3 linked regions of the Homo sapiens genome follow. The protein of the gene in region 1 purifies or fractionates together with the protein of each later gene. This does not show direct contact. Each region holds a gene or a part of one and is shown on either strand. Other genes may lie near its edges.

Region 1 (3,657 bases):
ATGTAAAGCATTCTAAAACATAATATGAAGCTGACTCATCCACCAGCCATGATGAAGGACTTAGGGTATGAGGATTATTACTGCTAGAATCAGGTATTTTTTAAATCGCAACAGGAGAGTTGGCCAAATGCATGGGGTTTCTGAGGAACAGTACTTCTGTTTATTTTGTAAACAGCTTTGTTTCAATCTTCTCTCTTTTTTTTTTTCTAAGTGTGCTGAACCATCAACAAGAAAGAACTTGATGAATTCTCTTGAACAAAAGATAAGGTGTTTGGAAAAACAAAGAAAAGAGGTAACTTAGAAATATTCGCTAAAGCCACAGGTGCCATGGATTAATGCTGAGGATAAAATAATGTATTATCCTTGTGCCTTTTATTTTTGTTATCAGGTCACAGTATTTATCTTTAAGATACTGGACTGCACTATTTTGAAAGCAAACGCCTTCTTTCTTATTCACCTGTATGTTTCATACTTGTTGTCTCAGTGTCTGTGCAGTGACGAATGAAAAACGACAAAGTCATAAGTCTGGTAATATAATCCTAATTTTCTCAAAACTTAGATGTTTCCTCCACACAGACCAAGTTACTTTATCCTTTATGCCTTTATCGTTTGTGCCTTATGACCTTTACCCTTTATGCCTTGCAACTTGACACACCTTGAAACTCAAGGTTTCTTGAGTTACTTGAAAAGTCTTTAAGTATAGTTGATTTAGGTGCTATGACTTCATGAACTGGGCATCCAAACACATGGGAGTTAAAAAGCATTATCATAAATAAAGTTTGTTTCTAAAATGTTCCTGGGAATTAATGGGTATTATTTGGAATTTTATTTTTCTGAGCTTAATGAATGTTAGAACCTCTTTACTCTTCTTGACAGAGGAAGTAGTGAAAAGTATAACAATTTTAGCACTCTGTATATTGTCAATTTTGTAATTCCTTCTTTTTTTTTTTTGAGACAGTGTTGCTCTGTCACCCAGGCTGGAGTGCAGTGGCACGATCTCAGCTCACTGCAGCCTCTGCCTCCAGGGTTCAAGTGATTCTTGTGCCTCAGCCTCCCAAGTAGCTGGGATTACAGGCGTGCACGACCATGCCCAGCTAATATTTGTATCTTTAGTAGAGATGGGGTTTCGCCATTTTGGCCAGCCTGGTCTAGAACTCCTATCCTCAAGTGATCTGCCCACCTCAGCCTCCCAAAGTGCTGGAATTACAGGAGTTAGCCACCGTGCCCAGCCTGTAATTCCTTTTCTAATTCATTCTGTGTACTACATCTTTCATGTTCTCTTGCATGGTGCCTTCTACTCTTCTTTGATACTTGAAGAATATTGTGACCTTCTGGAAAATTATTGAACGATGGCAGAGTAATGTTACTATAGTATACACATGGGAATCCCTAAAATGCCAACAGAGTAACTCTCAATATAATAATATTATACAGTTTCATACTAAATAATGATATGTATTTTCAGCATAAGAGTTACCTAGTAACTGCCACTCTGGATTCAGTAGTTTGCTTTTTAATTAGGAGAAAGTTTTGCTACTTTTTAGTCATTATGACTGTCTTCTCAGTGTCTGTTCCCTATAGATAAGCGTTGGAATTTCTCTTAATGCAGAAAACTACAAACTTCCCCAACAAAAAGCCAACCACATATCATAGCACTTCTTCTGCCTTCTAATTAGCAGATAGTCTTAAGATCTTTAAATTATTTGTAGCCTAAAATGCATCTAAATATTGTCCTATGACGAAACTATAATTTCTTGAAAATCTAAATTTTCAAAATGGTGATATTACCTATTTGTTGAGTATTTATTATAAATCATGTGTTAATCTTTTAAAACACATTATTGCAAGAAAATCGTGATCAGTTAATGGAGCCTAGGCTTTGTTAGCATAAATTCTGCTTTAAAAGAGCTGGAAAAAATATTTCATTATAATCAGTGTAAGCACAAAGAAAAATACGAAAAAGTTTGGGAAAAGAACCTCCATGCATTAAGAAATCTTACAGACAATCATCAATACTTACAAATTTTTATCAGATTGTGGTTGGATTAAACAAAGAAAATGAAAATCCAAATAACTAAAAAAAGTTAAAAGTTACTGATAAACTGTTCAGCTGACTTGTCAAGATATACCTGAGACTTACTGGTTTTTCTTTTCTTTTCTTTTCTTTTTTTTCTTTTCTTTCCATGAGATGGAGTCTCACTCTGTCGCCCAGGATGGAGTGCAGTGGCACAATCTCGGCTCACTGCAACCTCCACCTCCTGGGTTCAAGTGATTCTCCTGCCTCAGCCTCCCCAGTAGCTGGGACTGCAGGTGCATGCCACCACGTCCGGCTAAGTTTTGTATTTTTAGTAGAGACGGGATGTCACCATGTTGGGCAGGCTGGTCACCAACTCTTGACCTCAAGTGATCCCACCTGCCATGGCCTCCCAGAGTGGTGGGATTACAGGCGTGAGCCACCGGACCCAGCCAGTAGTTTTTCATATACGAACCAGTTATAAACAGTGAGAGTGTGTTCAATTTAATCATCCCAGCACAATCAGAACTTGATGGAAAAAAATATTGTCTTCATCCATGGCTTCTAAAACCTTAATAAGCTCAGAAAGTAATTTCTTTTTGACCAAACTTCCAAATGGGCAGAAATTCTTTGTTGATTCACCAAATTTTAATGATTTCAGCTCCTGGAAGTTAACCAGCAATGGGATCAGCAATTTAGAAGTATGAAAGAGTTATATGAAAGAAAGGTAAATACCTCTCTCTATTCGGTATTTTCTTTAAAGCCATTATCCTGGTGGGGCCAATTGTGTGAAGAGTCTCATTCATTTCAGCTACAAAGAGCTTTGTGGATAGCCAACTGTTGGAAAATGACGGGAAGGGTGCTAAGTGTAGTATTGGTCTCATGGCACTGAAAATTAATGAACGGTGTCAGTGAGTTGTCTTGAGCAATAGCTAAAGAAAGGTGCAAAAATGGCCCCCAGTGATGTCTCAAGAGTTCTTGTGCACATTTATCGTGGCTCACAGAGTATCCCAGCCTTACCTTTGTCACTAGAAGCCACAAATACACAAAGTTATATGTGAGGTGAGATATGGTTTAAAGTCCATACTGTTTACGCCAGGTTAGCCCTAATTCTTTAATTAGATAGCATGACCTATTTTCCACAAATAGAGAAACAAATGGTGGTAACAGTGAAAATGTGAGTAAAAATGGAGCAACCTCCTCTTCCATCTAAAGCATATTTGCTCTCAAGAAGCTCTGGTGAGAAAGGGGCTTTTGGAAGAAAACCTCCTTTAATACATAAAAGACAATTTATAATTTAAAATTATTCTATTTTCAAAAAGAGATAAAAAGAGCAAGTACTTTCCCCTAAATAATTCAGTATTAAGAAACTTGACCATGAGTATTGTAATATAGCAGCATTTTTCCTTTCTTCCTCATTTTGTTACCCAGAAGTATTGAATTTAGAAGGTGCAGGATAATGTTCCTGCTGCACCAGGCAATGGTCAGGCAGCCTTGCAATATCCCTGCTGGGGCAATCCGGATCTGTAAATGTTAAAGATGATGATCCCAGAGAGAATGCTTAAGCTGCTTTCTCGAACGGCTTGCAGGTGTGTGAAGACAGTGTTAGTGATGGCTATAATCTCCATCTTGGAAGATGCATC
Region 2 (3,038 bases), on another chromosome or scaffold:
GATGTGATAAAGCAAACAACAGCATTGTAGAATCTAGGTGGTGGGTATATGGGTGCTCACCTACAGTCCTTTCAACTCATCTGGATGTTAGTGTTTTTTTTTTAATAGAGACAAGGTCTTACTCTGTCACCCAGGCTGGAGTGCAGTGTTGTGATCTTGACTTACTGCAGGCTCACCTCCTGGATTCAAGTGATCCTCCCACCTCAGCTTTCTAAGTAGCTGGGATTACAGGCACATACCACCACACCCAGCTAATTTTTGTATTTTTTGTAGAGACGGGGTTTTGCCATGTTGCCCAGGCAGGTCTCAAACTCCTGGGCTTAAGCAATCCGCTGGCCTTGGCCTCCCAAAGTGCTGGGATTATAGGTGTGTGAGCCACAGCACTTGGCCTGAACATTTTTAAATAAAATGTTGGTAGAGAATGTTTGAAATCATGCAGATGTTACTTTAAAGTACTCCATGTAATAATGATGCTCACCAGAATTTGAGAACCACTGCACATTGGGGCAAGATTAGTTCAGAGGTGTATCAACCTGGGAGTTGTTCTTCAGCTTTTAAAAGTTTCATAGGCCTGGTGTGGTGGCTCATGCCTGTTATCTCTGCATATTGGGAGGCAGAGACAGGCAGATCGCTTGAGCTCGGTAGCCCGGACAACATGGTGAAACTCTGTCTATGCAACAACAACAAAATTAGCTGGGCATGGTGGCGTGCACCTGTAGTCTCAGCTACTTGGAAGGCTTAGGTGGGAGGATCACTTGAGCCCAGGAGGTTGAGGCTGCAGTGAGCCGTGAGTGTGCCAGTGCACTCTAACCTGAGCGATACAGCAAGACCCTGTCTCCAAAAAAAAAAAAAAAAATGCTTTACAGAAAAATTATAAGAAATGAAAATGTTGTTTTTGATTTTTGTCCTGGAAATCTGTCTCTTGACTACATACCTTGTTGCACTACCTTACATGTGAAAACCTTTGGAAACAGAAACACACTGAGCCTGTGTTCAATGTAAAGGCAAAGGCTTTCCACATACTGGCCAAACTTCAGTTTCCTTATCATACAAAATGGGGACAATAAGATTTGCTCCAGAGTCTTTAACACTTGTTATCTCATTATTTAACTTTTGATAAGCTATAATATTTTTATTTCTCTTAATTGCACATAATACATGATAATTACTGAAAGACTCTAAAATACAATCGAAGTGAAAGAAAAATCCCAGTCTCATTTTCCGGCCATATTTAGAGTTAACATTTTATGTTTTCTTCAAGGCATCTTCCCTCATAAAATACACATATAAGTACTTTGTCCTTTTATTTATATATAGAAATGGGATATCATTATGTGGCTTGCTTTTTTCACTTAATATTTTTGAATGTTTAGCCAGTTTAACACATTTATGTACTTTTGAATGGTTGTCTATTTACCATATAGGTGCTCTGTAAAATTTGCTTATCTGATCCCCCATTGTTGGATATTAGGTTGTTTCCTAAATTTTTCTTCTATGAACAGCACTGAGATGAGTCCCCACATACATACATTTGCAAATGTATCTGATGATTTTCTTAGGATAAAATATAAGAAGGGATACGAACTTTTCTTCCAAACTGGGTAGGCCACTGACCTTCAGTGAGGCAAGTTCTCCTGTCTCCCTTTGCAGGATTTCACGCCCCTACCATGTCCTGGCCTGTGGCAGGGACCCTCATGGTGGAGCCCACTGAGTCGGAGGACAAGGCAGAGCTGGACAGATTCTGTGATGCCATGATCAGCATTCGGCAGGAAATTGCTGACATTGAGGAGGGCCGCATCGACCCCAGGGTCAATCCGCTGAAGGTGCGTAGGCCCTGGAACATTGCTTGAAATGTTCCTTAAACTAGAAAATGATGTCTGGACAGTGTACCAGCAACTCCCGAACTCTCAACTGAGGATGATACTCTTCCCTAGAATAAGGTAATTCTTCTGAGAAGATGCAGTTGTTACTTTGAAGTTTCCATCGTCTTGAACAGCATAGCAGTTACTCAAGGATGATGTGGTTGTGGAAGCTGTCCACAGCTGTCTAGTTGGAGAATTTGTAACATTCTGCATCTCTGTTTGATGTACTGTAGTGAGATTATGGCATAAATAAAATTTACATATTCACATCACAAACTCTGTACAAGCACACATTCTTATATTAGAGCAGTTATCTCTGAGAAAACTGGATTGACATTTGGACTGGATGTTACAATGTTTATGCCCCATGTTGGGGAAAAGTTGGTTGGGCATTACTCTGCCGCTTCCAAAACATGTTAATTTTACATCTGGTCAGAGTCCTAAGTTTCTTGTTAGTCCAGATATTAAGCTGGAAGATCAGGAGTGGAGAATACCATGAAGGCTGTGGTTGTGTCTTCATGGCTGTAAGCCAGAGAACAAGTCTGATATGACTGCAGCAGCTGGGGCAGGTTTCCAAACTGCCTACCTGTAGGAGAGGGCAGGGACCAGTGACTTGCAGAAGGCAGGCACCTCTCTAGAGGTGAGTTCACAGAGTCATGGAGGCATACAAGATGATTATGCTTACCACCGTTTATTACTCTTTTCTCTCTGAAGACACCTGCTTCTTTCAGGATTTAGGCTATTTTTTTAAATGGCAATAAACATTTCAAAGAGCATAATAGTGAGTTATAATACAAGTGGATAATACCACTCATATGATGATATCAGATTTTAAAATGAGCCAAATTATGCTATATGCAGTTTATTAACATATGCAGTAATAGTATAAAAGCATGATGAGAATGGTAAACACCGAATTCAGAAGAGTGGTTAGCACTGGGATGGGGATATACAGGCAGCACCAAACGTGTAGGTAATTTTTTCTAAAAGATGAAGCAAATATGACAGAATGCTCATTAGACTTTACTGGGTGGTGGATGTGATGATTATTACCATAACGTTCTGATATTTAAAATATTTCACAATTATAAATCACATTGTACCCCCCTAAATTGAAAGAAAACAACAGCTTTCTCTGCCTGGGCTCCTGTCAGAAGATTGACGGTTGAGGTGCAG
Region 3 (3,657 bases), on another chromosome or scaffold:
TTTTTTTACATTATTGCACAGAGATTTCTCATCAATGTTCTTCAGTTTTTATGTCTTTTCCTAAATGTGAATAAGTGCTATGGATAAAATACAAATGTAGAAAATAACAGCAGCATGATTTGTCAAAGTTAATCCCTATAATTTAGTAAGAAAAAATGGATATAAACAAAATAAGTGCTCTTTCTAAACTGTACTAAATTTTCAAAAATATTGTTTTAATGCAGTGAAGGTCCTGAAAAGCCTATTGAAAGCGATGCTGAGTCCTGTTTTCAAAAGTGTCCTGTTTGGGTTTTCTTGGTGAAGAGCAGAATTTCAAGTGAAGTAATCGACGGACTAATTTAAAACAAAACAGCCCTCGGCTTCCCTATTGGCCTGTGAGGGCACCGGCTCCGGGACCCTGACCTGGGAGGCAGCGAGTGGTGGGGGTGCCTGGCCCCCATCTACACGTACACAGGCTGGCAGCCTTCAGTCTGATCCACCAGATCAGAGCTTTCTAAATCTGAGCTCTCAGCCTGTGAAGCTTCTGCTCCTGAAGGCTTTGGGCATCGAAAGGGGTAGCCATTGTCATCAAAGAACCTTCGGAAGGTGAATTCGTAAAATGCGTGCTCAGGATGCTTGTTATTGGGCGAGGTGAGTGTGTCCCAGGCCTTGGTGCTACCTTCGCTGGCATCGTTCCAAGGGCTTTCTTCATCTACGGGGTCGAAATTCGAGGTGTCCATGGGGTGGCTGATGGTGGGAACGTAGGGGGCTGGCTGCTTCCGGATGTCACTGGAGAAGTCAATGGCGCTGAAGAAGGGGTGGGCCTTCAGGTCATCGGCCCCATTCCGCCCCAGGCGGTGGTCTGCGGAGCAGCACAGCTTGGTGATGAGGTCCCTGGCCTCAGGGCTCAGCTTCACCTGGGCTGGAATGTGGAGCGTGTTCTCCCAGTTGATCACCTGAGGAAACAACAGAGCCAACAGGTTAGTTTCTCCTCACATCTTGGGCAGTTCTGGGACAGCGTGTGATGACGTGACTTTCAAATATGTTTAGTTTCACAATAGGAGAGGAGTTAGAATAGACACAAGCAGCAGTTGTTGATCTCAGCAGCCACAAAAAGTCAGTGTCATTTCAGTCGATGGCTCACAGCCTGAGGCCAGGATGACCAGTCAAATACAGACAAAAAGATACTGATTTTCTTCTATCAGAAATACTGTTTAGCCAAAGAATTTTGTGCTTTCCACAAAAATGAAGAGAATGATGGTCTACAAGTTCTTTCTTTCTTTTTATTTTTTTGAGATGGAGTCTCGCTGTGTTGCCCAGGTTGGAGTGCAGTGGTGCGATCTTGGCTCACTGCAACCTCCGCCTCCTGGGTTCAAGCGATTCTCCTGCCTCAGCCTCCCGAGTAGCTGGGATTACAGGCGCCTGCCACCACACCCGGCTGATTTTTGTATTTTTAGTAGAGACAGGGTTTCACCACGTTGGCCAGGCTAGTCCTGAACTCCTGACCTCAGGTGATCAGCTAAAGTTATTTCTTTAGCTATGGCAATGGCTTTCTGCAAACCATCATGACGCTCATTCAAATACTTATTGCGGTCAAAAAACGGCCAACTGGGGTTTTGAAAAACAAACAGGAAAAACTTCATAGGGAAGAATAAAGCTGACTGACCCCATGTGACCTTACATGCTCAACTGCACAAACCAGCCATCTGGACGTTCAGTAAATGCACTTGTTGTAGAGATGTGTCTACTGTGAAGACAAAACCTAGGGGACTTCTTTATTGTTTACACTTAGAATCAGGAGGAAACAAGGCCAACATGACTGGCTACCAGCTGGGGTGATGGGACAGCGGATAAGGCATGGAAGTTAGTGGGTGTGTGGGTGGTAGGCTTGGTTTGAACCTAAGTAGTTGTTTTCATAGAGCTAAAACTGTAGAGCTCCTAGAAGAAAACATAGGGTGAAATCTTCATGAACCTGAGTTTGGCAATGATTTCTTAGACATGCCACCAAAAGCACAGGGAATAAAAGAAAAAATAAATTGGACTGCATAAAAATTTAAAACTTTTGTGCATCGAAGGACATTACTGATAGCAAAAAGGCAACAAAATGGGAGAACAGATTTCAAAACATGTATTTGAAAAGGGGTTAGTACCCAGAGAAAATACAGAACTCCTACAACTCAACAACAATAACAAAACCAAATAAGTTGATTTAAAAAGGGTAATGGACTTGAGGAGATATTTCCAAAGATATACAAATGACCAATAAGGACATGAAAATAAGCTCAATATAATTAAACACTAGGGAAATACAACTCAAAACCACAATGAGATACCACCTTACATCCCCTAGGGTGGCTACTACTTAAAAAAAACAAAAACAGGAAAATACTTATTGAGGATGTAGGGAAACTGAACACTCAGTCACTGTTGGTGGGAATGTAAAATGGTGCAGCCACTATGGCAAACAGTTTGGGAGTTCCTCAAAAAGTTAAACACAGAACGACCATATAATCCAGTGGGATATAAACCCACTTTCTGGTTTATATCCAAAAGAACCGGAAGCAGGGACTCATACAGTGGAATTATTATTCCACCTTAAAAAGGAAGCTACAACAATGGATGAACCCTGAGGACATTACGCTAAGTGAAATAAACTAGACACAAAAAGACAGATACTGCATGACTCCACTTACAAGAAGTCCCGAGGCCAGGCACAGTGGCTCACACCTATAATCCCAACATTTTGGGAGGCTGAGGTGGGTGGATAACTTGAGGTCAGGAGTTTGAAACCAGCCTGACCAACATGATGAAGCCACATCTCTACTAAAAATACAAAAATTAGCTGGTGTTGTGGCAGGCACCTGTAATCCCAGCTGCTTGGGAGGCTGAGGCATGAGAACCCGGAAGGCAGAGGTTGCAATGAGCCAAGATTGTGCCACTGCACTGCAGCCTGGGATACAGAGCAAAACCCTGTCTCAAAAAAAAAAAAAAAAAAGTCCTAAGCATAACCAAACTCACAGAGACAGGAAGCAGAAGAGAGGCGAGCAGGTGCTGAAAAGGAGAGTGGGGAGTTTCTGTTTAATGGGTTTGGGACGATTAACACATTTGAAAATAGAGGGTGGTGATGGTTGCACAATATTGTGAATGTACTTAATGTCACTGAATTATACACTAAAATAATTAAAAATGGTAAATAATTAAAATAATTATTAAATAAATGGTAATTAAAATAATTAAGATGGTAAATTTTAATTTACCATTAAAATAATTAGATGGTAAATTTTAATTTACCATTAAAATAATTAGATGGTAAATTTTAATTTACCATTAAAATAATTAGATGGTAAATTTTATGTTATGTATATTTTACCAGAATAAAAAAATCTGAATTATCATGTGGGCAATTTAGTGAGTAGCTCAGCCATTCAATTAGGGCGCAGATAATGCCAGATTCCAATTTTACTGTTCCTAGAGTGAAACTAAGCCTTACTTTAGGGTTTTTCGATTTCTCTTTTTTCTTTTTTTGAAACAGAGTCTCGCTCTGTCATCCAGGTTGGAGTGCAGTGGCGTGATCTCGGCTCACTGCAACCTCTGCCTCCTGGGTTCAAGCGATTCTCCTGCCTCAGCCTCCCAAGTAGCTGAGACTACAGGCGCCCGCCCCCATGCCAGGCTAATTTT

What was found.
Region 2: the proteins of TNIP3 (region 1) and GLDC purify together in Homo sapiens (co-immunoprecipitation; one large-scale study listed by IntAct). This does not show direct contact.
Region 3: the proteins of TNIP3 (region 1) and LATS2 purify together in Homo sapiens (affinity purification with western blotting; one study listed by BioGRID). This does not show direct contact.

The regions. Positions count from the first base shown.
Region 1 is NC_000004.12:121,157,771-121,161,427, reverse strand, and holds part of TNIP3 (TNFAIP3-interacting protein 3), read left to right. Parts: intron 1-211; coding exon 212-292; intron 293-2,675; coding exon 2,676-2,741; intron 2,742-3,657. UniProt on the Homo sapiens protein: Binds to zinc finger protein TNFAIP3 and inhibits NF-kappa-B activation induced by tumor necrosis factor, Toll-like receptor 4 (TLR4), interleukin-1 and 12-O-tetradecanoylphorbol-13-acetate.
Region 2 is NC_000009.12:6,534,849-6,537,886, reverse strand, and holds part of GLDC (glycine dehydrogenase (decarboxylating), mitochondrial precursor), read left to right. Parts: intron 1-1,650; coding exon 1,651-1,823; intron 1,824-3,038. UniProt on the Homo sapiens protein: The glycine cleavage system catalyzes the degradation of glycine.
Region 3 is NC_000013.11:20,974,430-20,978,086, forward strand, and holds part of LATS2 (serine/threonine-protein kinase LATS2), read right to left. Parts: intron 936-3,657; coding exon 441-935; 3' UTR 1-440. UniProt on the Homo sapiens protein: Negative regulator of YAP1 in the Hippo signaling pathway that plays a pivotal role in organ size control and tumor suppression by restricting proliferation and promoting apoptosis.